2 separate regions of the Homo sapiens genome follow, and region 1 is linked to region 2. The links come from fine-mapping of genetic effects on gene expression. A gene starts in region 2. The other region holds a variant in brackets. All regions are shown on one strand. Distances are from middle to middle.

Evidence for each region.
Region 1: its variant is fine-mapped to the expression of SLC28A3 in whole blood (TOPMed, PIP above 0.99).

Annotation. Positions count from the first base shown.
Region 1 is chr9:84,361,710-84,374,016 of GRCh38, forward strand. It overlaps a transcript of SLC28A3 not described here. Among named protein-coding and RNA genes, the nearest start is that of SLC28A3, 27 kb to the left of the region's middle. The variant C/T (reference allele first, on the strand shown) is at 6,808.
Region 2 is chr9:84,333,275-84,345,581 of GRCh38, forward strand. It overlaps SLC28A3 (solute carrier family 28 member 3), which reads right to left and starts at 7,484. Exons shown (of 18, transcript NM_001199633.2): 1 at 7,300-7,484. The coding sequence starts at 7,359.

The DNA of each region.
Region 1 (12,307 bases), 28 kb after region 2:
CAAAAGAGGCAATATGAACTTCTGAGTTTTCAGCTGTGGAAAAAAAAAAAATAATAAGCTGGGCACAATGGCTGACATCTGTAGTCTCAGCTACTCAGAAAGCTGAGGCGGAAGGTTCGTTTGAGCCAGGAATTTGAGGTTACAGTGAGCAATTGCGCCATGGCACTGTAGCCTGGGCGACAGAGCAAGAGTCTGTCTCTAAAAATAAATAAATAAATAAATAAATAAAAATTAATTTTTAGTAACAGCTAAGGGAAAGGGTTTGGAGGTTTGCTGAGGAAATGCATCTTAGTGTTCCAGTACTTCGTGTCCCTTATTTTAATTAAAAGAACCAAATTGACTTTTCCCAGGACAACCCGACTTATTAGTGTTTTTTGTGTTACTAAAACTTGTTGACTAGAGAATTTCAGATGCTGTTCTGAAGGTGAGTGAAAGTGGAATGCAGTAACTTGGATCTAGAGTTCGAACTTTAACAATTGGGAGGCTGATAATGAGGCAGAGACTGGGAAAGGGGCAAGTCTGGGGGAGAGCCCCAGGGCTTCATCTGTTAATATTGAGATGCTACTGGACACACAAGTGGAGATGCCAAGGAGGCTGGAGCTATAATAAAGTCAGAGCTAAAGATAGAAATTTAGGACTTGGCCAGGCGTTGTGGCTCACACCTGTAATCCCAGCACTTTGGGAAGCTGAGGTGGGCAGATTGCCTGAGGTAAGGGGTTGAAGATCAGCCTGGCCAACATGGTGAAACCCTGTCTCTACTAAAAATACAAAAATTAGCCAGGTGTGGTGGTGCATGCCTGTAGTCCCAGCTACTTGGGAGGCTGAGGCAAGAGAATTGCTTGAACCTGGGAGGCGGAGATTGCAGTGAGCCGAGATCGGGCCACTGCCCTTATAGCCTGGGTGACAGAGTGAGACTCTGTTTAAAAAAAAAAAATTAAAATAAATAAGTTAATAAATAAATAAATAAATAAATAAATTTAGGACTGATTGTCATTTAAATCAAAGGTGATGAACTTTTTAAATGCCATGGACCGCTTTGGCAGTCTGGTGAAGCCTACAGCCCTCTTCTCAGAATGATGCTTTTAAGTGCATAAAATAAAATACATAAGATTGCAAAGGAAAACTGCATTAAAATATAAGTAGGTATTAAAAAATTGTGATAAAGTAATATAATAACTCTTGTATTAATACATTAAATAACAGATTTATAAATCTAATAACTAACATATTTGCAAGTAGTAAAAAAGATAAAAATATTTTTGGATGTCTGGAATAACTGTAATGTAATATGAACATGTTCGTGAATGGTGACAGAGCTCCAGATATGACAGTACCATTGCTTTATTTACGAATGAAAGAAATATTAACTTTCAGATAGAGATTAGTGAAGATAGAATATTTTTTCCCATTCAAGTTCATAAACCCTTAAATGATATTTAAAGCTATGGAACATGATGAAATCTACTAGTATGTAAATAAAGAAGAACAAGGGTCCCTAGGACTAATCTGGGATGTTCTTATATTAGGAGATTGAACGAAGGTACAGGAGCTTAAAAGAGACTGAGAAGGCACAGGCAGTGATGTAGGAGAGGAACCAAGAGGGGAGAAATCAATAAGTCAAGGCAGGAAAATGTCTATGGGAAGGAATCAAGGATCTGTATTCTTCATAACCTTCAAGTATTTATTATGTACACTGATGACTAAGATTCCTCTTTACTGGACTATTCCCATTGTTCATTCAGCTACTATTTTTCAACCAAAACGGTACAGCAAGCAAGGTGCTCTAGGGCTGGGAATACAGAAATAATGATCACTTCCTCTGTGCCAGGCACTCAATATTCACGAATTGAATCCTGTCACATCCATATTATTATTAGTTTCACTAGTAGATGGGATTAGGGCATTTATCAGAATCATCTAAGTGTTTTGCTAACAGAGAAAAAGATAAAAGATGGCTGTGCCCCACCCCAGACATTCTGAGTCAGAATGGGAAGTTGGGATACCCATGTCCCACTGTGTTTCCAATAAATTGCACATGTGATTAACATTTGTTTATTTTTGTAGAGATGGGGGTCTCACTATGTTGCCCAGGCTGGTCTTGAACCCTTGGGCTCAAATGATCCTCCTGCTTTGGTTTCTCAAAGCGATGGGATTACAGGCTTAAGCCACCAAGACTGGCCTGATTTCCATACTGACCAAAGTTTGTCTTTGATTTTTAAAATTATCTTTTTTCATAGATTTAAAAAAATTTATCTTTAATTTTTGTGGGTGCATAGTAGGTGTATATATTTATGGGGTACATGAGATGTTTTGATACAGGCATGCAATATGTAATAATCACATCATGGAAAATAGGCTATTCATCCCCTCAAGCATTTATCCTTTGTGTTACAAAAAATCCAGTTACACTCTTTTTTTTTTTTTTTTTTTTTTGAGATGGCGTCTTGCTCTGTTACCAAAGCTGGAGTGCAATGGCACGATCTCGGCTCACTTCAACCTCTGCTTGCCAGGTTCAAGCAATTCTCCTGCCTCAGCCTCCCGAGTGGCTTATAGGCATGCACCCTTGATGCCCGGCTAATTTTTGTATTTTTTCAGTAGAGATGGGGTTTCGCCGTGTTGGCAGGTGATCCACTCACCTCAGCCTCCCAAATGCTGGGATTACAGGCATGAGTCACCACGCCTGACCTTTGTTTTGTAAAGACAAGGTCTTGCTATGTTGCCCAGCCTGGTCTTGAACTCTTGGCCTCAAGTGATCCTCCTGCCTTCACCTCCCAAAGTGTTGGGATTACAGGTGTGAGGCACTGTGCCTGGCCAATTACGCTTTTTTAAGTTATTTTGAAAGGTACAGTTAAGTAATTATTAACTATAGTCAATCTGTTGTGTGATCAAATAGTAGGTCTTTTTAATTCTTTTTGTTTTTTTTGTACCCATTAACCATCCCTACCTCCCCTGCAGACCCCCACTACCCTCCCCAGCCTCTGGTCACCATGCTCTACTCTCCATGCCCATGAATTCCATTGTTTCAATTTTTAGATTCCACAAATAAGTGATAACATGCGATGTTTGTCTTTCTGTGCCTAGCTTATTTCACTTAACATAATGATCTCCAGTTTCATCTATGCTGTTGCAAATGACTGAATCTCATTGTTTTTTAAGGCTGAATAGTATTCCATTGTGTATATGAACCACATTTTCTTTATCCATTCATCTGTTGATGGACACTTAGGTTGCTTCCAAATCTTAGCTATTGTGAACAGTGCTGCAACAAACATGTGAGTGCCGGTATCTCTTCAATATACTGACTTCCTTTCTTTTGGGTATATACCCAGCAGTGGGATTGCTGGATCATATAGTTGCTCTATTTTTAGATTTTTGAGGAACCTCCAAACTATTCTCCAGAGTGTCTGTACTAATTTACATTCCTACCAACAGTGTACAAGAGTTCCCTTTTCTCTTCATTCTCACCAGCATTTGTTATTGCCTGTCTTTGGATATATCCCATTATAACTGGGGTGAGATGCTATCTCACTGTAATCTTGGTTTGCATTTCTCTGATGATCAGTGATGTTGAGCACCTTTTCATATGCCTGTTTGCCATTTAAATGTCTTCTTTTGAGAAATGTCTATTCAAATCTTTTTGCCTAGTTTTAAATTGGATTATTAGATTTTTTTTCCTATAGAGTTGTTTGAGCTCCTTATATATGCTGATTATAATCCTTTGTCAAATGAGTAGTTTGCAAAACTTCACTTTGTTGCTATTTTTCCTTTGCTGTGCAGAAGTTTTTTTTAAGTTGATATAACCCCATTTGTTCACTTTTGCTTTGGTTGCCTGTGCTTGTGGGGTATTTCTCAAGAAATTTTCGCCCATAACAATGTCCTGGAGATTTTTCCCAAACTTTTCTTGTAGTAGTTTCATAGATTTAAGTCTAATCCATTTTGATTTATTTTTGTATATGGGGAGAGATAGGGTTCTAGTTTCATTCTTCTGCATATGGATATCCAGTTTTTTATTCTTTTACTGTCTCTGTATATTTTCAGACAAGATTGGGTGTGCTCGAAGACTGGGCGTGGTGGCTTACACCTGTAATCCCAGTACTATGGGAGGCTGAGGTGGGAGGATCACCTGAGGTTGGGAGTTCGAGACCAGCCTGACCAACATGGAGAAACCCTGTCTCTACTAAAAATACAAAATTAGCCAGGCGTGGTGGCACATGCCTGTAATCCCAGCTACTTGGGAGGCTGAGGTGAGAGAATTGCTTGAACCCAGGAGGCAGAGGTTGTGGTGAGCCAAGATCGTGCCATTGCACTCCAGCCTGGGCAACACGAGTGAAACTCCATCTCAAAACAAAAAAACAAAAAAAAGATTGGGTGCATTCGGGGTGGTATGGCTGTAAACTGACTGTATTTTCAAACAGCCTGGCTTCAAGCTCACTAATTCTTTCTTCTGCTTGATCAATTCTGCTATTAAGATTCTGATGCATTCTTCAATATGCCAGTTGCATTTTTCAGCTCCAGAATTTCTGCTTATTTTAAACTATTTCAATCTCTGTGTTAAATTTGTCTGATAGAGTTCTGACCCTTCTGTGTTATCTTGAATCTCTTTTAGTTTCCTCAACACAGCTATTTTGATTTTTCTGTCTGAAAGGCCAAATATCTCTGTTTCTCCAGGATTGGTCCATGTTGGCTTATTTAGTTCATTTGGTGAAGTCTTGTTTTCCTGGATGGTGTTGATGCTAGTAGATGTTCTTTGGTGTCTGGGCATTGAAGAGTTAAGTGTTTATTGTAGTCTTCACTGTCTGGGCTTGTTAGTACCTGTCCTTCTTGGGAAGGGTTTCCAGATATTTGAAAGGTCTAGAGTGTTGTAATCTAAGCTATATCTGCTTTGGGGGACACCCCAAGCTCAGCAACACTGTGGTTCTTGCAGACTTGTAGAGGTACTTCCTTGATGGTCTTGGACAAGATCTAGGAGAATTCTTTGAATTACCAAGCAGAGACTCTTGTTCTCTTCCCTTACTTTCTCCCAAACAAACAGAATCTCTCTCTCTGTTCTGAGCCACCTAAAGCTGGGGGTGGAGCGACACAAGCACCTCTGTGGCCACCACCACTGTGACTGTGCTGGGTCAGCCCTGAAGCCAGCACAGCCCTGAGTCTCACCCAAGACCTTCTGTAACCACTTCCTGGCTACTGCCTATGTTCTGTCAAGGCCCTGGGGCTCTACAGTCAACAGGTGACAAGGCTAGTCAGGCCTGTGTCCTTCCCTTCAGGTCAGCAAGCTCCCCCAGGCCTTTGGTGGGTCCAGAGGTGCTGTCTGGGCCTCAGGGAGTAGAATGAAAACCTTAGAAGTCTACCTGCACTGTGGCTGAGCTGGCACTCAAACCATAAGACACAGTGCTTCCCACTCTTCCCTCCCTTTTCCAAAGGCAGAGGAGCCTCACTTCATAGCCACCACCACCGCAGGCCACGGGGAGTACTCCACAGGAAGTACTGCCATACTACCGCCAATATTCTCTTAAGGCCCAAAGTCTCTTAAGTCAGCTGGTGGTGAATGCTGCCTGGCCTGGGACTCACCCTTCAGGGCAATGGGCTCCCCTCTGGCCCAGGGCAGGTCCAGAGATATCCACAAGCCAGGTCCTGAAATATGTGACCCCAAAAGCCTGCCTGGTGCTTTGCCCATTTGTGGCTGTGCTGGTATCTGAAGCTAGCAAGTTTCAGAGGCTCACCCTAGGCCCTTGATTGAAGGGGTCCTGCCCCTCCACACCTGTGGGTGTTTCTCGTCAGGTGGAGACGAGAGACTGAGAAAAGAAATAAGACACAGAGACAAAGCATAGAGAAAGAACAGTGGGCCCAGGGGACCCGCACACTCAGCATGCGAGGACCTGCACCGGCGCTGGTCTCTGAGTTCCCTCAGTATTTATTGATTTCTATTTTTTACTATCTCGGCAAGGGGAGTGTGGCAGGAGAACAGAGTGATGATGGGGAGAAGGTCAGCAGGAAAACATATGAGCAAGTAATCTGCATCATAAATAAGTTCAAGGGAAGGTACTGTGCCCGGATGTGCACGTAGGCTAGATTTATGTTTCTCTTTACCCAAACATCTCAGTGTAGCAAAGAGTAACAGAGCAGTATCACTGCCAGCATATCTCGCCTCCAGCCATAGGGCGGTTTTCTCCATCTCAGAGTAGAATGAATGGTCGGCTTCACACGGAGACATTCCATTCTCAGGGACATGCGGGAAACAGAGGCCTTCCTCTTATCTCAACCGCAAAGAGGCCTTCCTCTCTTACTAATCCGCCTCAGCACAGACCCTTTATGGGTGTCGGGTTGGGGGATGGTAAGGTCTTTCTCTTCCCATGAGGCCATATCTCAGGCTGTCTCAGTGGGGGGAAACCTTGGACAATACCCAGGCTTTCTTGGGCAGAGGTCCCTGTGGCTTTCCACAGTGCATCGTGTCCCTGGTTAATAAAGGACGGAGAATGGAGATGACTTTTACCAAGCATACTGCCTGCAAACATATTGTTAACAAAGCACATCCTGCACAGCCCTAAATCCCTTAAACCTTGATTCAATACAGCACATGTTTCTATGAGCACAGGGTTGGGGCTAAAGTTACAGGTTAACAGCATCTCAAAGCAGAACAATTTTTCTTAATATGATCAAAATGGAGTTTCTTATGTCTTTCTTTTACTACATAGACACAGTAACAGTCTGATCTCTCTTCTTTTCCCCCACACTGATACAGTACCTGGGTATCGCTGCTGGTTGTTCAGGTCCCAAGCGCTCTTCATTTAGCAGATGCTGAATGCTGGC[C/T]GGACTGGGTCCTTTCCTTCAAGGTGGCAGGTTCACTTCTGACTCAGGGTGTGTCTAGAAATGTCATCTGGGAGCTGGGGCCTGGAATGGGGGCCTCACAACTCTGCCCAGTGCCCTATCCTGCTGTGGCTGAGTTGGCATCCAAGATGCAAGACAAAGTCCTCCCCACTCTTCCTTCTCTCCTCAAGAGGAAGGAAGGAGTGTCTTATGCAGCGGAGGGCTGTGCAGCCTGGAGTTAGAGGAGGGGCACCCCAGCTGGTGTCTCAGTATGTCACATGCCACACCCCTGCCCCCCCACCAAGTCCACTGTCTCTGGGCCCAGTTCAGCCCTAGGACATGAAGTCATGTCAGAAGAACTGCAGGCTGGTCAGGGTGGAGGAACTGGGGAGAGGGGGTAGAAGATGAAGTCATGCCAGGCGTGGTGGCTCACATGTGTTATCCTAGCATTTTGAGAGGCCGAGGCAGGTGGATCACTTGAGGTCAGGAGTTTGAGACCAGCCTGGCCAACATGATGAAACCCTGTCTCTACTAAAAATACAAAAATTAGCCGGGCATGGTGCTGGGCACCTATAATCCCAGCTACTCAAGAGGCTGAGGAAGGAGAATTGCTTGAACCCGGAGCGGGGCGGAGGTTGCAGAGAGCAAAGATCATGCCACTGCACTCCAGCCTGGGCGACAGAGCAAAACTCTGTCTCAAAAAAAAAAAAAAAGAAGATGCAGTCAGATGAAGATGGACTCTGTAGGGCATGGCATGATCACATTTACTTTTTTTTTTTTTTTTTTTTTGCCTAAGATTTGCAGCCCTTACGGCCTAGACTGTCTTTAAGGTTTTTTAGAGTCCCAGAGCACTGTAGCCCTCAGTGGTGAGGTTTGTGGGAACTCAAGTTCAGACAGCTGGAATAGGCGATTCCCCTCTGGCTAGGGCTGGTTTGAATGCTCCCCCAATAGGTGGGTGTTAGCTGAGTTTGGTTTAGTTTTCCTTTCTGCTCTAACAGAACAGCACTGAGTTCAATGCCTTACAACTGCTGTTTACTCCCTCCCTCAGTGCCCAGAGACGCGCTCCGCACCATGCTACTGCTGGGGTCAAGCGTGGAATGGAGGGGTGGGGGTACTTTGAGGGCTCATGTGATTTTTTGGTTCTTTTTTTTTTAACTTTTAAGTTCAGGGGTAATGTGCAGGTTTGTTATATAGGTAAACTTGTGTCACAGCGGTTTGTTGTACAGATTATTTCATCACCCAAGTATTAAACCTATTATCCATTTGTTATTTTTCCTGATCCTCTCCTTCCTCCAGCCCTCCACCCTCCAGTAAGCCCCGGTGTCTGTTGTTCCCCTCTTTATGTCCATATGTTCTCATCATTTAGTCCCCACTTATAAGTGAGAACATGTAGTATTTGGTTTTCTGTTCCTGCATTAGTTTGCTAAGGATAATGGCCTCCAGCTCCATCCATGTTCCTGCAAAGGATATGATGTCATTCTTTTTTATGGATGCATAGTATGCTATGGTGTATAGATATTGTATTTTTTTAATCCAATCTACTATTCATGAGCATTGAGGTTGAGTCCATGTCTTTGCTGTTGTTAACAGTGCTGCAATGAACATATGTGTGCATGTGTCTTTATAATAGAAGGATTATATTTCTTTGGGTATATACCCAGAAATGGGATTGCTGCATCAAATGGTAGTTCTCTTTTTAGATCTTTGAGGAATTGCCACGCTGTTTTCCACAATGGCTGAACTAATTTACACACCCACCAACAGTGTATAAGCATTCCTTTTTCTCTACAACTTCACCAACCCCTGTTACTTTTTGTGTTTTTAATAATAGCCACTCTGACTGGTGTGAGATGGTATCCATCGTGGTTTTGATTTGCATTTCTCTAATGGTCAGTGATGTTGAGCTTTTTTTCACATGCATGTTGGCCACATATATGTTTCTTTTGAAAAGTGTCTGTTCATGTCCTTTGCCCACTGTTTAATGGGGTTGTTTGTCTTCTTGTAAAATTTAAGTGCCTTATAGATGCTGGATAATAGACCTTTGTCAGATGCATAGTTTGCGAAATGTTTCTCCCATTCTGTGGGTTGTCTTTTTACTCTGTTGATGGTTTATTTTGCTGTGGAGAAGCTCTTTAGTTTAATTAGATCTCGTTTGTCAATTTTTGCTTTTGTTGCAATTGCTTTGGGCATTTTCATCATGTAATTTTTGCCTGTTCCTATGTCCATAATGGTATTGTCTAGGTTGTCTTCCAGGGTTTTTATAGTTCTTAGTTTCACATTTAAGCCTTTAATTCATCTTGAGTTAATTTTTGTATGTAGTGTAAGGAAGAGGTCCAGTTTCAATAGTCCGCACATGGCTAGCCAGTTATTCTAGCACCATTTACTGAATAGGGAGTCCTTTCCCCAGTGCTTGTTTTTGTTGACTTTGTCGAAAATTAGATGGTTGTAGATGTGTTGTCTCATTTCTGGGCTCTATATTCTGTTCCATTGGTCTATCTGTCTGTTTTTGTACAAGTACCATGCTATTTGGTTACTGTAGCCCTGATGTATAGTTTGTAGTAGTATAGTTTGAAGTTGGGTAGCGTGATGCCTCCAGCTTTATTCTTTTTGCTTAGAATTGCCTTGGTTATTTGAGGTCTTTTTTTGGTACCCTTTGATTTTTTTTTTTTTTTCCAAAATGGAGTTTTACTCTTGTCACCCAGGCTGGGGCACAACGGCGTGATCTTGGCTCACTGCAACCTCTGCCTCCTGGGTTCAAGCGATTCTCCTGCCTCAGCCTCCCGAGTAGCTGGGATTACAGGAGTGGGCCACCACTCCCAGCTAATTTTTGTATTTTTAGTAGAGACGGGGTTTCACTATGTTGGCCAGGCTGGTCTTGAACTCCTGACCTCAGATTATCACCTGTCTTGGCCTCCGAAAGTGCTGGGATTACAGTTGTGACCCACAGCACCCAGCCCATATGAATTTTAAAATAGTTTTTTCTAGTTCTGTAAAGAATATCACTGGTCGTTTGATAGGAATAGCACTAAATCTATAAATTCAATGAGCAGTATGGCCATTGTAACAATATTGATTCTTCCTATGAATAAGCATGGAATGTTTTCCCATTTAAGGAGTTTTTTTTTTGGGGAGGGGATAATTGGTGGAGCCTTTTATTCTGCCAACTTGCTCTGCTTCCCTCATAGATTTTTTAAAAATTAAAATTTAAAAAAGAAACTAAAAAAATACTTTTAAGAGAGAAAAGAAACAGCAAATATAACAAATGGGTTCACTGTATTATGCTAAAAGTGGTAAGTGCTGTGGAAAAAAAGGAAAAAGTTGGGTAGAGGAAGGGATTTTGAAATGCCAGGGGGCAGGAGGGCTCATATTTCTCAGTATTCATAGGGTGAACTCACTGAGGTTGTGCAAGAAGATATCTGTGGTCAAAGTACTGGCAAGAACTGTTAAAAACGCCCTAACGTGGGAGCATGAAGTTGTGTCAGAAGTACTGCAGCCTGGTCAGGGTGGAGGAGCTGGGGAGAGGGAGTAGAAGATGAAGTCAGATGAAGATGGACTCTGTAGGGCATGGCATGATCAAATTTACTTTTTTTTTTTTGTTTTGAGACAGAGTCCCACTCTGCTGCCGGGACTGGAGTGCAGTGGCTGTGATCTCGGCTCACTGCAACCTCCGCCTCCTGGGTTCAGGAAATTCTCCTGCCTCAGCCTTCCAAGTAGCTGGGATTACAGTCACGCTCTATCACGCCTGGCTAATTTTCGTAGTTTTGGTAGAGACGGAGTTTTGCCATATTGGCCAGGCCGTTCTCAAATCCCTGACCTCAAGTGATCCACCCGCCTTGGCCTCCCAAAGTGCTGGGATTACAGGTATGAGCCACTGCTCCCGGCCTCCAAATTTACATTTTAAAATCAGCACTCAGCTGCTGTACTGAGAGTAAACTAACTGAACCCATGTCTTCTTGGCCTATGTGCTTCTAGGGCCACCTTCTGCTTTGGATTAGCTTAAGCAAAACTAATGAGCTCTAAATACAAGCCCTGTCTGGCCTGGTTTTAGGCGATGTCAGATCTTTAGTTTCCCCTAGTAGCCCTAATTTATCTTTATTTTTGCTCATGACACTCTCAGCTTTCAACTTAGCATTGCTGGTGGGTTATAGTTAGGGTTTGTCGTTTTCATAAAACTCTTCGTTCTATTTAGTTACAGTACATCTGTTTCTTATGAAAGATTAATTTTATGCATCTTTAAATCTTTGAAAACATAGCCTTGCCTCATGCTGGTTCTCGTCCACCCCTGTAGGCCTGATAAATGTTGGAGAAAACTTTGACAGCATAATTAAGGCATAATTTTATTCTATTTTTTTAACCTCTGTCACTCAAAAAAAAAGTGCAAAATAGAATTTATATGGCTGGAAGAACAAGGTGGCAGTGATTTATTTATGCCAGACCAGAGGAGGATATTGATATTTATTAAAATAAAATACTAAGATGGTAAATGGTCTACTAATCAGAACCTGGTTAACATCATGTGCCTGAGCAGGTGGGGTAGAGACAGGCAGAGCCCTGGAGATTGCTCTTATTTCAAATACAAGGGATACAGGGTCAGAGGGAAAGGATTTCGTTAGAAAAAGAGAATGCTCGCATTTACTCAGAGCGGACTGTTTGCTGAGCTCTCTGGCTGGACCTAGGAGCTAATGCCTTGTCTATGGAATCGTGGCTGAATTCCTACCCACAGCCTTCTTGGTCCTCTCTGGCCTTCTACTGCCTTTACAGATTGATCGTGGGGTGCAGTGGACCCTTTAGCACTTTGGAATTCTCTTAACCCACCCTGTACTGTCTCCAAATGGTTGCCTTAACTCAAGTCTACAGTGTTGTAAAATCTTTTGTCCTCAAAGGCACAAGACGTTCTGAATTGGCCCCTTCAGTGTATTTCCAGGGTACTTTGTAATGACAGGAATGGTTCATCATTGAGTGGTAAGGTCCTGTAGCATATTCCTTATATGCATGTTTCATTCATTCCTCTCATTAATGATATGAGACAAGTCCCTTCCCTTCCCTTCCCTTCCCTTCCCTTCCCTTCCCTTCCCTTCTCTTCTCTTCCCTTCCCTTCCTTTCCCTTCCTTCCTGTCTCCTCTCTCCTCTCTCTCTCTCTTTCTCTCTATTTTTTTGTTGAGACGGAGTTTCACCATGTTGCCCAGGCTAGTCTCTAACTTGGGCTCACGTGGTCCACCTGCCTAGGTCTTCCAAAGCGATGGGATTACAGGCGTGAGCCACGGCACTTGGCCTATTCCATTTTCTAGATAACAAAAGTGAAGCCCAGGCTGGGTGTGGTGGCTCACGCCTGTAATCCCAGCACTTTGGGAGGCTGAGGCAGGTGGATCACTTGAGGTCAGGAGTTTGAGACCAGCCTGGCCAACTTGGTGAAACCCTGTCTGTACTAAAAATACAAAAATTAGCCAGGTGTGGTGGTGGGTGTCTGTAATCCTAGCTACTTGGGAGGCTGAGGCAAGAGAAT
Region 2 (12,307 bases):
TGAAGTTTTTATAGCTCACCAGGAATTTCCTTGTGGGCAAAACATGGGGGAAGCGTGTAGCTTTTCATCTTGTAGCCATCTTATTTAGGAACCAAAAGGGGGAGATAGGTATGCGTGACCCAGTTCCCAGCTTGACTTTTCCCTTTGGTTAAATGAGTTTGGGGTCCCAAAATTTAATTTCCTTTCATAGGCTTGTAACCAGAACATCTAAGGAACTCTTTCAAATAAAAATGGAAAAAATCCAGTAGAGAAAATGGGCAAGAAAGTTGAGCAAATATTTAAAAAGTTGGCATCTAACAACCAATAACAGGAAAATTTTAATTAAACTCAATGACATACTGCTACACACCCACCAGAATGGTTGACATTAAAAGGTCAGCTGAATAATGATGAGAAATGGGAATACTCACTCTGCTGATAGGCATGCAAATTGGTAAAATCACTTAGGAAACCAATCTGACACTATCAGCAAAGTTGAAAGTATATGTTTATTCCAGTGGCCTAGCAATTCCACTCCTAAGTACAACCCCAGAGTAAATTTATTACAGATACTCCCCCTGGCATGGATAACAGTGTCCCTAGCTGCAATGTTTGTAGAAGCTCCAAAAACCCCAAACTTAATAACGCAAATGTCCACTAGCAGCAAAATGTATAAGTTGTGGAATATTTACATGGCAGAATCCTGTGCATTATGAAATGGGATGAGCTGCAGTTACATGCAACACCATGTGAATCTTAGAGAGCTGATGGCCAGGCATGGTGGCTCACGCCTGTAATCCCAACACTTTGGGAGGCCAAGGCGGGTGGATCACGTGAGGTCAGGAGTTTGAGACCAGCCTGGCCAACAGGGTGAAACCCCGTCTCTACTAAAAATACAAGCCGGGCCTGGTGGCTCATGCCTGTATTCCCAGCTACTCAGGAGGCTGAAGCAGGAGAATCGCTTGAACTGGGGAGGCAGAGGTTGCAGTGAGCCAAGATCACGCCACTGCACTCTAGCCTGGGCAACAGAGCGAGACTCTGTCTCAAAAAAACAAAAAAAAAGTTTCAATATAAGCAAAGAATACATTTTGTGTTTCTATTATATAAAGTTCAAAACCAGGCAAAGGTACTGCTTGGGGATTCATAATTAGAAGTTAAGGTATAAAGAAAAGCAAGGAAGTAATTGCCCCACATTTGGGTCAGTAGTCACCCCTGGTTGGGTTTACCCCAGGGAAGGGAGGCAGCAGTGATGAAATGTGTAGGGCTGGACCCTGAGGGATGGCAATATCCTGTTTCTTGACCTGAGTGACAGTTCGCCTTATAAGTTGTATATTTGTTTTTATGTATTTTTCTGTATGTTGTATTTCACAACGAATTTTTTTTTTTTTAACATAAAAACACCTCCCCACAACTGCCTTTGCCTGCCCTAGGTCTTCCCCTTCCCCGCCCCTCCCTAGCACCACCACTGCACCAGAAGAGCGTTCATTCTGCTACCATTTTTCCTAGCCTAACTCCCGCTCATAACACAAACTTCTCCTCCTTCCCCAACCCTAGCGTCACCAGTAACCTCCTAGCTGGCAAGTCAAGTGAACCCGTGGCCTCACTCTATAGACTCCTCTGTCCTTTCGGAGTCTTTTCTGTTGACTTGTGGTTCTACTTTCCCTTGACTTCTCCAGATCGCCCCTCTCCTGGTTCTGCTGCTCTTTCTCTCCCTGTGGCCCTCTGCTTCATTCTCTGACATCTCTAACTTCCCCACTCCTTAAGCGCTACTGTTTCCCAGGCTTCCCTCACAGTGGTCTTATCCGCGCTCATATCTATGCTAACAGCTCCCAAATGTGTGTCCTCTTCTGAGCTCCAGGTGAACGTATGCTACAAGCTTCCTACTTCATCTACCCCTTCATGAAGATGCCTGGAGTCAACTTAATTTCAACCAACAGGCCTCAAAGAGAACTCACTCTCTTTTTTGCTCTAACTTTATTCCTAGATTTTCTACCTAAATAAAGCCTTGCCCGAGGCTGGGTGAGGTGGCTCACACCTGTAATCTCAGCACTTTGGGAAACCCAGGAAGAGATGGGAGGATCACTAGAGGCCAGCCTGGGCAACATAGCAAGACCCTGTCTCTACAAATATAAAAAATAAAAAAACTTAGCCAGTTGTGGTAGCACGTGCCTGTAGTCCCAGCTACTCAGGAGGCTGAGGTCAAAGGATTGCCTGGGCTCAGGAGTTTGAGGCTGCAATAAGCTATGATTGTGCCACTGCACTTCAGCGTGGGTGACAGAGTGAAGCCCTGTCTCTATTTAAAACAACAGCAATAAATAAACAAAGGGAATCACTTCCAAGTTGACATCCCAAGCTGGAAACATTGACTCCACACTTTCCTTAAGCTGCTCAGCATCAAAAGCTGCTATTGTTATGTTCATACTATGTGCCAGGCACTGTTTTCACAAGTATGTATATACGTGTGTGTGTGTGTGTGTGTGTGTGTGTGTGTATAAAATGTCCATTATACATATATAATATTAGCTTATTTAATTATTTCAACAATCCCAAGATAGGTACCATTATTATGCTCTTTTACAGAGGAGAAAACAGAAATCTTCAGAGCCAGAGCAGCATTTAGGCCCTCATCTTTACTCCTGAATTTCATTGTGGAGGGGTCACCTCATCAGTATTAGTACCTCCGTCCCAGTGTCTGCATCCACTGCCTTTAGCCTGGTTTGGATTATGACAGTAACTTCCCAACGGATGTCCCAGCCACACACAAATCCCTCTCCTTTTCCAAGCACTTTCAATGGGGCCACCAAAGTAATATTAAAAAAAAAAAAATCAGCCTGGTGCAGTTGGCTCACACCTGTAATCCCAGCACTTTGGAAGGCTGAAGCAGGCAGATCACTTGAGCTCAGGAGTTTGAGATCAGCCTGGGCAACATGGTGAAACCCGATTTCTACAAAAAAATACAAGAATTAGGTCGGGCACGGTGGCTCACGCCTGTAATCCCAGCACTTTGGGAGGCTGAGGCAGGCGGATCATTTGAGGTCAGGAGTTTGAGACCAGCCTGACCAACGTTGTGAAACCCTGTCTCTACTAAAAATACAAAAAAAGTAGCCAGGTGTGGTGGCATATGCCTGTAAACTCAGCTACTCAGGAGGCTGAGACAGGAGAATTGCTTGAACCCAGGAGGTGGAGGTTGCAGTGAGCCAAGATCATGCCACTGCACTCCAGTCTGGGCGACAGGGTGAGACTTCATCTCTAAAACACAAAACAAAACAAAGACTAGCCAAGTGTGGTGGCGCATGTCTGTAGTCCTAGCTACTCAGGAGGCTGAGGTGGGAGGATTGCTTGAGCCTGGGAGGTTGAGGCTGCAGTGAGCTGAGATCATACCATAGCACTCCAGCATGGGTGACAGAGTGAGACCCTGTCTCAAAAAAAAAATCACAATTTGACTGCGTAAATTCTGAGCGATTCCTTCTAAAATGCCTTAGCACACGCAGAGGCCACCTGACCTGATGCCAGCCTGCCCCCTTTCCCTATACCGTGTTCCCTTCCTCCATCCCAGGCTCATGTGCTCTTCTCCTTTAGGGTTCTGAGTCTGTACAGATAGTTCTCTCTGCTTGCAGTGCTCTGCCCACCCCACCTCCTACTGTGACCTGACCATCCTTAAAGCCCTAATCAAATTCTCCCTCCTTTGGTGATGCTGTCACAGACTCCTCAGTCAGCTCAGCTCCAGCTATATATTATTTACAATGCACTTGGTGCTGGCTGGGTGTTGTGGCTCATGACTGTAATCCCAGCACTTTGGAAGGCCAAAGCAGGAGGATTGCTTGAGGCCAGGGTTTCAGACCAGCCCTGGTAAGATAGCAAGACAAAATATAAAAAATAATAAATATAAGAATACAATGCACTTGGTGCAAACCTCCGCCATTTTCCTTAACATCAATTATATTGTAATTGCATGCTTATTTCTGCCTGTCCTTCTCCTTGAGGGCAAGAAGAGCATATTATTCTTTCTTGAGTTGGTATCCCTTCTTAGAGGCGGCCATATCTAGGGGGCAGTTGATGATTCTACTGAATAAATAGAAATAACCCAGTCACTGTTTTTAGGTGTGGGTGTTGTTGGTATGATACTCTGCTGGGTTTGAGATGCCCTGCTTAGAACCTTGAGGCCTGGGGATGCTAGCCTGTGTGTGTGCGCGCGCGTGTGTGTATGCGTATGTGGGTGTGAGTGTTTGCACACGTGTGTGTGTGTACTTTGTCCTTTCAGGCAGTTATTTTTCCTGAACTGATGGGAACATCTTGCACAAAATCAAGAGCCAGTTTGCTGACTGTTTTAAGGTTTAAAAAATATTTTAAAATAAAATAAGAAATCCTTAGATATTCCACATACACGCAATACTTTAAATGCCAATCCGAACTTCCTTCATAAATAGCAAACGTCTTATTTGCAACTACTGTTGAATGAAGTCATTTCCATCCTCAGCCATATGAGAAATAAGTTCCTTATTCATAGAAAACGTTTAGAGGTACAATAAAATGAGATTAGAAAAAAAAAACCCTAACATTCATTTCTATCGTTGGTTACAAAATCCACTCTCATGTATGAAGTGTGCTCTAGCTGTGAAATCCTTTCTTGGAGGTGAGATCATTTCTCTCTTATAACCCATATCACTGACTTTGTGCTCCTGTTTAACCTTTCCCACTGGAGTACTAGCTCCATGAAAACAGCAATTGGTGCTCCCTTCTTTGAGGAACAGTCCAGATGAGAGCCTGTCCAGGTAATCCATAGATATGCATAACCATTGCACCTGCACCAGGTCTTACAGGCACAGGCCTTTTGGGAACCCATATCAGCATTTCAAGCTGTGAAAGTAGTTCTACTTAGTAAAATTAGAACTTTGGTCTACCAAGGGCACTCTTAATATTTGAAGAAGAAAAATGAATTTCTAGCACAATTCACAGACTAGGACAAGGTGAATAAGTAAGCATCCTAACTTATTTGGAAGTCCTGGTGGCATGTTAATGCATATTTAATAATGCGAGTGAAGTAGCACATATTTTACAATCAATTAATTTTCCTTAAAGAAGATAATGTAGCAGGAGAGCTGAATGTCAAACAAGGTAAGACTCATACTTATTAACTTGGCAGGAGTTATGAGGCCTCTGATTCTCTTGAAAGACAAATTGTCTTCACTATTTTGATTTTGAAATGTAGAAATTCAAATTTCAATCAATCCAATGAGTAAGGATGACAGGAAATTTTACAGAACTAGGAGGAAGCTTCCTTTCATTTTTCCTTCTTTTTATTGGGGCAGGTGTAGGGGGATGTTTCCCCCACAAAACAGCAGTTTTGCTAGAAGACAGTGAGGGATCACCACCGTTGTGTGCCCTCCTCCCTGGGAGCAGCCAGTTGCTGTGACATGGACCTTCTCTATTGCAGATATATTTTCTTGCTGCCATACTTCCTCTGACTCTATCCAATTCCATCCTTTCCATTCTCTGGAATCAGAATGGGCCCATGCTTTATGCTTTTCCCCCTCACTTAGCCCTTAGAGAAGAGATCAGGATGTGCCACCCTCCAAATGCCCACATTTTGGCACAAGAATATTTTGAACTGAAGGCTATGAAAAAGAAAGCAGACACAGAAAGAGCTCTCTGCCCTCCCCCATCCCCCATCTTCCTAAAAGCAGCACATTTATTGATATTTCCCTTGCACAGGTGTCCCGCTTGCTCATACAAGGAAGAGAGCAACCCTTATCACCAAAGACAGAGATGCCGCTGAGATAAATCTGCATGAACAAACCTCGATAAATTAACCCTTATCTTCCATTATTTCCACCTCCCACCCCCACTTTATTGTCCCTAAAAGCATAACCCTCTTTTCCTTTGTCTAGTCATTTCACTATTTGCCGTGCTTTGTTTTAATGGTATATAAGCTCCTGAGTCTATTAGGTTTTTCCGTTTCTTTTATGTGAGGCTCTCATACATGTGAGATTTTATTTTATTATTATTATTTTTTTGAGACTGAGTCTCCCTCTGTCAACCAGGCTGGAGTACAGAGGCACGATCTTGGCTCACTGCAGCCTCTGCCTCCCAGATTCAAGTGATTCTCCTGCCTCGGCCTCCCGAGTAGCTGGGACTACAGGCATGTACCACCATGCCCGGCTGATTTTTGTATTTTTAGTAGAGATGGGGTTTCACTATGTTGGCCAGGCTGGTCTCAAATTCCTGACCTCAAATGATCAGCCCGCCTCAGCCTCCCAAAGTGCTAGGATTACAGGCATGAGGCACCACTGCCAGCCACATGTGAGATTTTAAATATGAATAAAATTTGCGTGCCTTTTCTCCTGCTAATCTGTTTTATGTTGGTTTAATTTGCAGGCCTCAGGCACTCAACCTAAGAGGGTAGATGAAGTTGTTTCCTCTCCTACACTTGTGACCTATAAGTGGTAACCCGATGCCTACTCATGGAGATGGGCATCACTGTGACCATGGGACAGATGATCAAACTTGGGCTCTGGGAAGTTACAGGAATTTGTGGGTGCTGGAGTCTGAACTCCTGTCAAAGCCCTTTTACCTCCCTCTTTCCTTTCTTGGCTAGCACCTCAAAGTTTTGTTTTGCCCATCTAGCAGACCGTAAAGTCCAAGGGATTGTTGACACTTGCCGGTGCAGGCTTCCCATCTTCTCCAGAGCGCCCATGCTGAGTGTCAGCTAAGGAAAGGAAGCACACCTAAAAACAGCCCTGGAAATCCCCATCCCAGACCCAGTCAAAATAGCCTGGTGTTTCTGACAGGTCTCCTTCTATGTCTCTGCGGGCACCCAGCCTCGGGCTGAGCAGCATTAATCACTCAGTGAGTTTTGGTTGATGAAGTGAGACTGATTTGCGTAATCCAGCTGCTCTGGGGCAGGTACCGGGGCCATCTGACAGGGGCTCCAGGACTTGGCTTGAGTAAAAGGAACCCTGAGACACTACCCCAGCCAGGATCTAAATTCCCCCATTTTTCCCTTCTCACCAGTTCTTTGGAAAAGTGCCTGAAGATAAATAATGGACCCCTGCTGTGAGCCAGAAGGGAAAAAAGGCAAGAGAAGAAGGCTGTCTTGTTTCTAAGTGACCATAGGGATCACAACACATCGATTAAAAGAGACTTTTCAGGTTTGTCAACCCAGAAGAGCCCAAGAAGAAAAAATAATGGGCTTAAAGTGTGCCGTTAAAAATCGTATTGTCCTGATAATCTCCCTGCTTAGGTAAGAAACTTGCCAAGGGGCTAAGGAAAGGGCAGCTTTTCCACTGAAGGCCTTTAACATAAGAGGAAAGCTCTGCTCACCTGGAAGCCCACGTTGCTGTAGCCCTCAGCTCTGGGGGCTGCTGTACTCCTCAGCTCCATGCTCTTTTTGCTGCTGGCTGGCTCTGGTCTGGAGGTCCTTTGTACCTGGGAAAAAGCACCAGTCTCTGCTGATGTCAGAAAGCCACCTGCTGTTACAGGGACCTGGGCACAGCTTGCTTCAGTTTGGAAACTTCTGCAATAATCTCCTGAATGACTAGGGCTGACACCTGGTTGGGGTGGGGCAGAGAGGCGGGCGGGTTGGCGGGGTGGAGGCATCTAGTGCTGGCCCGCCCACCTTATTAATCTTTTCCTTTATCCCCATTTTTGGCATCCTATTTGCACTCCTGGGGAGAAAACTCTTGTGGTGCACAAAACAGAAAAGGACACTTTCTTTTTCTTTCTTTCTTTCTTTTTTTTTTTGAGATGGAGTCTCAAAAAAAAAAAGGCTGGAGTGCAGTGACGCAATCTCGGTTCACTGCAACCTCTGCCTCCCAGGTTCAAGCAATTCTCCTGCCTCAGCCTCTCAAGTAGCTGGGATTACAGGTGCATGCCACCACACCTGGCTGACTTTATTTTTAGTAGAGACGGGGTTTCACCATGTTGGCCAGGCTGTTCTTGAACTCCTGACCTCAAGTGATCCACCTGCCTTGGCCTCCTAAATTGCTGGGATTACAGGCATGAGCCACCGTGCCCAGCCAGAAAAGGACACGTTCTCTATAGTGCTTAGTGAAATCCTCTGTTTTCCTGTGGGTGGTGTTAAAGACTAGGAGTGGTGGTGGGGTGGAGGGTGAGTGAACACAGGATATAAGGTCATGCCGCCCTCAGTGATCACCTACTGTATACCAGGGATGGATAGATGGATAGATACATAGACAGATAGGTAGGTAGGTAAGGGTCTTGGCTCTTCTTCCGAACAACTCAAAATTCTATACTGAAGTACAGAAAAGTTAACAATTTGTTTAGTGTCATTTAGCTAATAAAGGGATAATGAGAATTCAAATTCAAGTTTGGTTAATTCCAAAACCTTTTATTACATCCCTGCTTCAGACTGGGCTGCTTTCAAAAATCCAGCTTACAGAAATGCCGATATGTGACAAGTAAATGAAAGGTGACCAGCTATTCAATTATCAAAAGTGAATAGAAGTGCTTTGTTTTCATAAAGCAATTCACTTTGCTTTATGAAAATATTAGCTGTAGAATTCTTTTAAAATAGGGATTTTCCCCCCTAGTACAATTTAAAATACTGCAAAACTGTGGACAAAAGAATGGAAAAGGCCTGGTGCGGTGGCTCACGCCTGTAATCCCAGCACTTTGGGAGCCCAAGGCGGGTGGATCACTTTAGGCCAGGAGTTCAAGACCAGCCTGGCCAACATGGCGAAACTCCATCTCTACTAAAAATACAAAAATTAGCCAGGAGTGATAACGTGCGCCTGTAGTCCCAGCTACTCGGGAGGCTGAGGCGGGAGAATCGCTTGAACCCAGGAGACACAGATTGCAGTGAGCCGAAAACGCACCGCTGCCTCCCATCTGGATGACAGAGTGAGACCCTGTCTCAAAAAAAAAAAAAAAAAGAAAAGAAAAAGAAAAAGAAAAAGTAAGAAAATACCAAGTATTATGAGTGGTTATTTCTCGGTTTTTAATTTTATGGGCAGTTGGTGTTTTTTTTTTCTCCTTCAAATGCTGCTGAGTTTTCTATAAAGAGAATGATTTACTTTTATTATTGTTAACCTAAAGGAAAAAACGGAGACAAACTTAATGTAAGTATAGAGTTTATTTGGTCTAAGTTTGAGATTGCAACTTGGGAGCACATATTCAAGTTGCTCTGAATATACACTTAGTAGCAGTTACAAGTAGATTCTTGTGTGTGTGTGTGTGTGTTCTGTTGCCCAGGCTGGAGTGCATGATCATGGCTTGCTGCAACCTTGACCTCCTGGGCTGAAGCTATCCTCCTGTCTCAGCCTCCCGAGTAGCTGGGACTACAGACAGGTGCCATCACCCATGGCTAAATTTTTTTTTTTTTTTTGGTAGAACTGGGGGCCTCACTATGTTGCCCAGACTTGTCTTGAACTCCTGGGCTCAAGCAATCTTCCCACCTGCCTTGGTTTCCAAAAGTGCTGGGATTACAGGCACTGTGCCTGGCCACAAGTGAATTTTAAAGGAAAAGAAGGAGTTTCTGAGTTGTTTACCAATTATTTACATTAAAATAACATAAGCTATTGATTGGCTATACATTGCTATTTGTATCACACATTCTAGGAACAGAAAGGCAGCCAGTCAGGAACAAAATTCCTTTAAAACAATTGCCCCTGGCCAGGCACAGTGGCTCCCGCCTATAATCCCAGCACTTTGGGAGGCCGAGGCAGATGGATCATGAAGTCAGGAATTCGAGACCAGCCTGGCCAACATGGTGAAACCCTGTCTCTTCTAAATACTACAAAAATTAGCCAGGCATGGTGGCACATGCCTGTAGTCCCAGCTACTTGGGAGGCTGTGGCAGGAGAATTGCTTGAACCCAGGAGGTGGAGGTTGTGGTGAGTCGAGTGGAGGTTGTGGTGAGTCGAGATCACGCCACCGCACTCCAGACTGGGTGACAGAGCAAGACTCCATCTCAAAAAAAAAACAAAAGACAAAAAACAAAAGCAAAAAAAAATTGCCCCCGGGCACAGGGTTGAGTGGTGACTGAAGTCCAACCCTCCGTTTCTCTGGGCCTGATAGATTTTGCATTGCTCACATAGCTGGGACTGTGTGAGTTATTTTTGTTTTCTCTTTATCAGTGACTGAGGCCCAGTCTCTCTGGGCCTGATAGATTTTGCATATCTCACATAGCTCAGACTGTGGGAGTTATTTTTCTTTTCTTGTTATCATGATACAGACTGTACAGTGTATACATAATGATTAAAGGCTTGCAGGAACCTGTGGTCTGGGTTCAAATCCTGGACTCTACCTCATAACTACAGCCAACCACAGCTTGAGGGTCACACCTAACCTTCTGCTGCTTTTATATGGCCCAAGAGCTAAGAATGGGTTTTAGATTTTTAAATGGTTGAAAAAAATTAAAAGGAAGAATATTTCCTGACACATTAAAGTTATATGAAATTCAAACTTCAGTGTCTATAAATAAAGTTTTGTAAAAACAGAAACATGGCCATTGATTTATGTATTGTCTAAGGCTGCTATCATCCCATAAGGACAGAATTGAGTAGCTGTGACAAATACCACACGGCTCAAAGACAAAATATCCACTACCTGGCTGATGCCTATAATCCCAACACTTTGGGAAGCCAAGATGGGAGAATCGCTTGAGCCCAGAAGTTTGAGATCAGTCTGGGCAATGTAGGAAGACCCCGTCTCTACAAAAAATACAACAATTAGCCAGGTGTGGTGGTACGTGCCTGTAGTCCCAGCTACTTGGGAGGCTGAGGTGGGAAGACTTACTGGCCATGGGAATTTGGGCAAGTAGCTGAGTTCTCTGTATCTCAGATTCTTCCTTCATAAAACGGAGATAACAGTACCTGAGGACTAAGCTCTGATTTTTTTTTTATCTTGCCCAAATTATGATCTAAGGGGTCTGGGGAGTCATGCCCTACAAATCATAAATTCTCATCATATGGGTTTTTTTTTTTTTTTTTTTGGTCAGACAGAGTCTTGCTCTGTTGCCCAGGCTGGAGTGCAGTGGCAGATCTCAGCTTACTGCAACCTCCGACTTCCGGGTTCAAGTGATTCTCCTGCCTCAGTCTCCCGAGTAGCTGAGACTACAGGCGTGTGCCACCATGCCTGGCTAATTTTTACATTTTTAGTAGAAACAGAATTTCACCATGTTGGCCAGGCTGGTCTTGAACTCCTGATCTCAAGTGATCCACCTGCCTTGCCCTCCCAAAGTGCTGGGATTACAGGTGTGAGCCACCGCACCCGGCCCAGATGGGTTTTATTTAACCCTATATATCATGACTTACTTTCAAACCTGACTCGCATAACATTATGAGACAAGGAAGAAAATAAAAATATTTTACCCCAAAACATGTTTCTTTGACATATTTTGAAAAGGAAACATTGTCATCCTTTGTCTCTAAGGGCAGCCACTATAAAACTTCAGAAGAACTTTGGTTTCCACAATCTTTATCTTAGCCTGAATATTCCCTTTCTATGAATCCCAGGTCTTGAGACAAACTCAACCAATTGTCAACCAGAAAATGTTTAAATTCCCCTATAGCCTGGAAGCCCAACCCCCTCCTCCCCTTGCTTTGAGTTGTCCTGCCTTTCTGGACCAAACCAATGTATTTCTTAAATGTATTTGATTGATGTCCCATGCCTTTTTAAAATGTATAAAACCAAGCTGTGCCCTGACCACCTTGGGCAAATGTTCTTAGGGCCTCCCAAGGGTTGTGTCATGGGCCATGATCACTCATATTTGGCTCAGAATAAATGTCTTCAAATATTTAACAGAGTTCAACTCTTTTCATCGACATACCCATTTAGAAACAGTGCTGAGATGATAAAATGAGTTAATATACACAGGGAATAGTGCCTGACACATAATTCAACATCACCCAAATTTTATGATTTAGCTCTTTCGTGCTTCTTATTGATGAGACTTGGGGATTTTCATTAGTTCTTCCCCATCATTGCAATGTGCCATAAGTAGTAGTCATTGTGTTACCAAAGGCAAAAAAAAAAAAATCCAAGTGGAAGTGAGCAAGAGAAGTACAGATAAATAGACAGCAAATATTTGGGAAACTTTCCTTGAGAAATCGTTAGTTGGAAGAAACCAGTTGGTGCAACCTGATATTAAAACCTTCACCAACTCAAGACTCAATCTAGTTGAAGGTTATGGATGATCCTTACTTTCTGAAGCAAAAGACAGACATCTTCATTCTATCATTTAAAGCCTCTAATTGCAGAAACGTGACTCCAATGCCTGACATTCTTGCAGACACTGCTTTAGGAACTTTTAGAAATGTAACGATGTGTTTTCTTCTCCTTGGCTGCAGACAAAATTTGAAAAGAATGC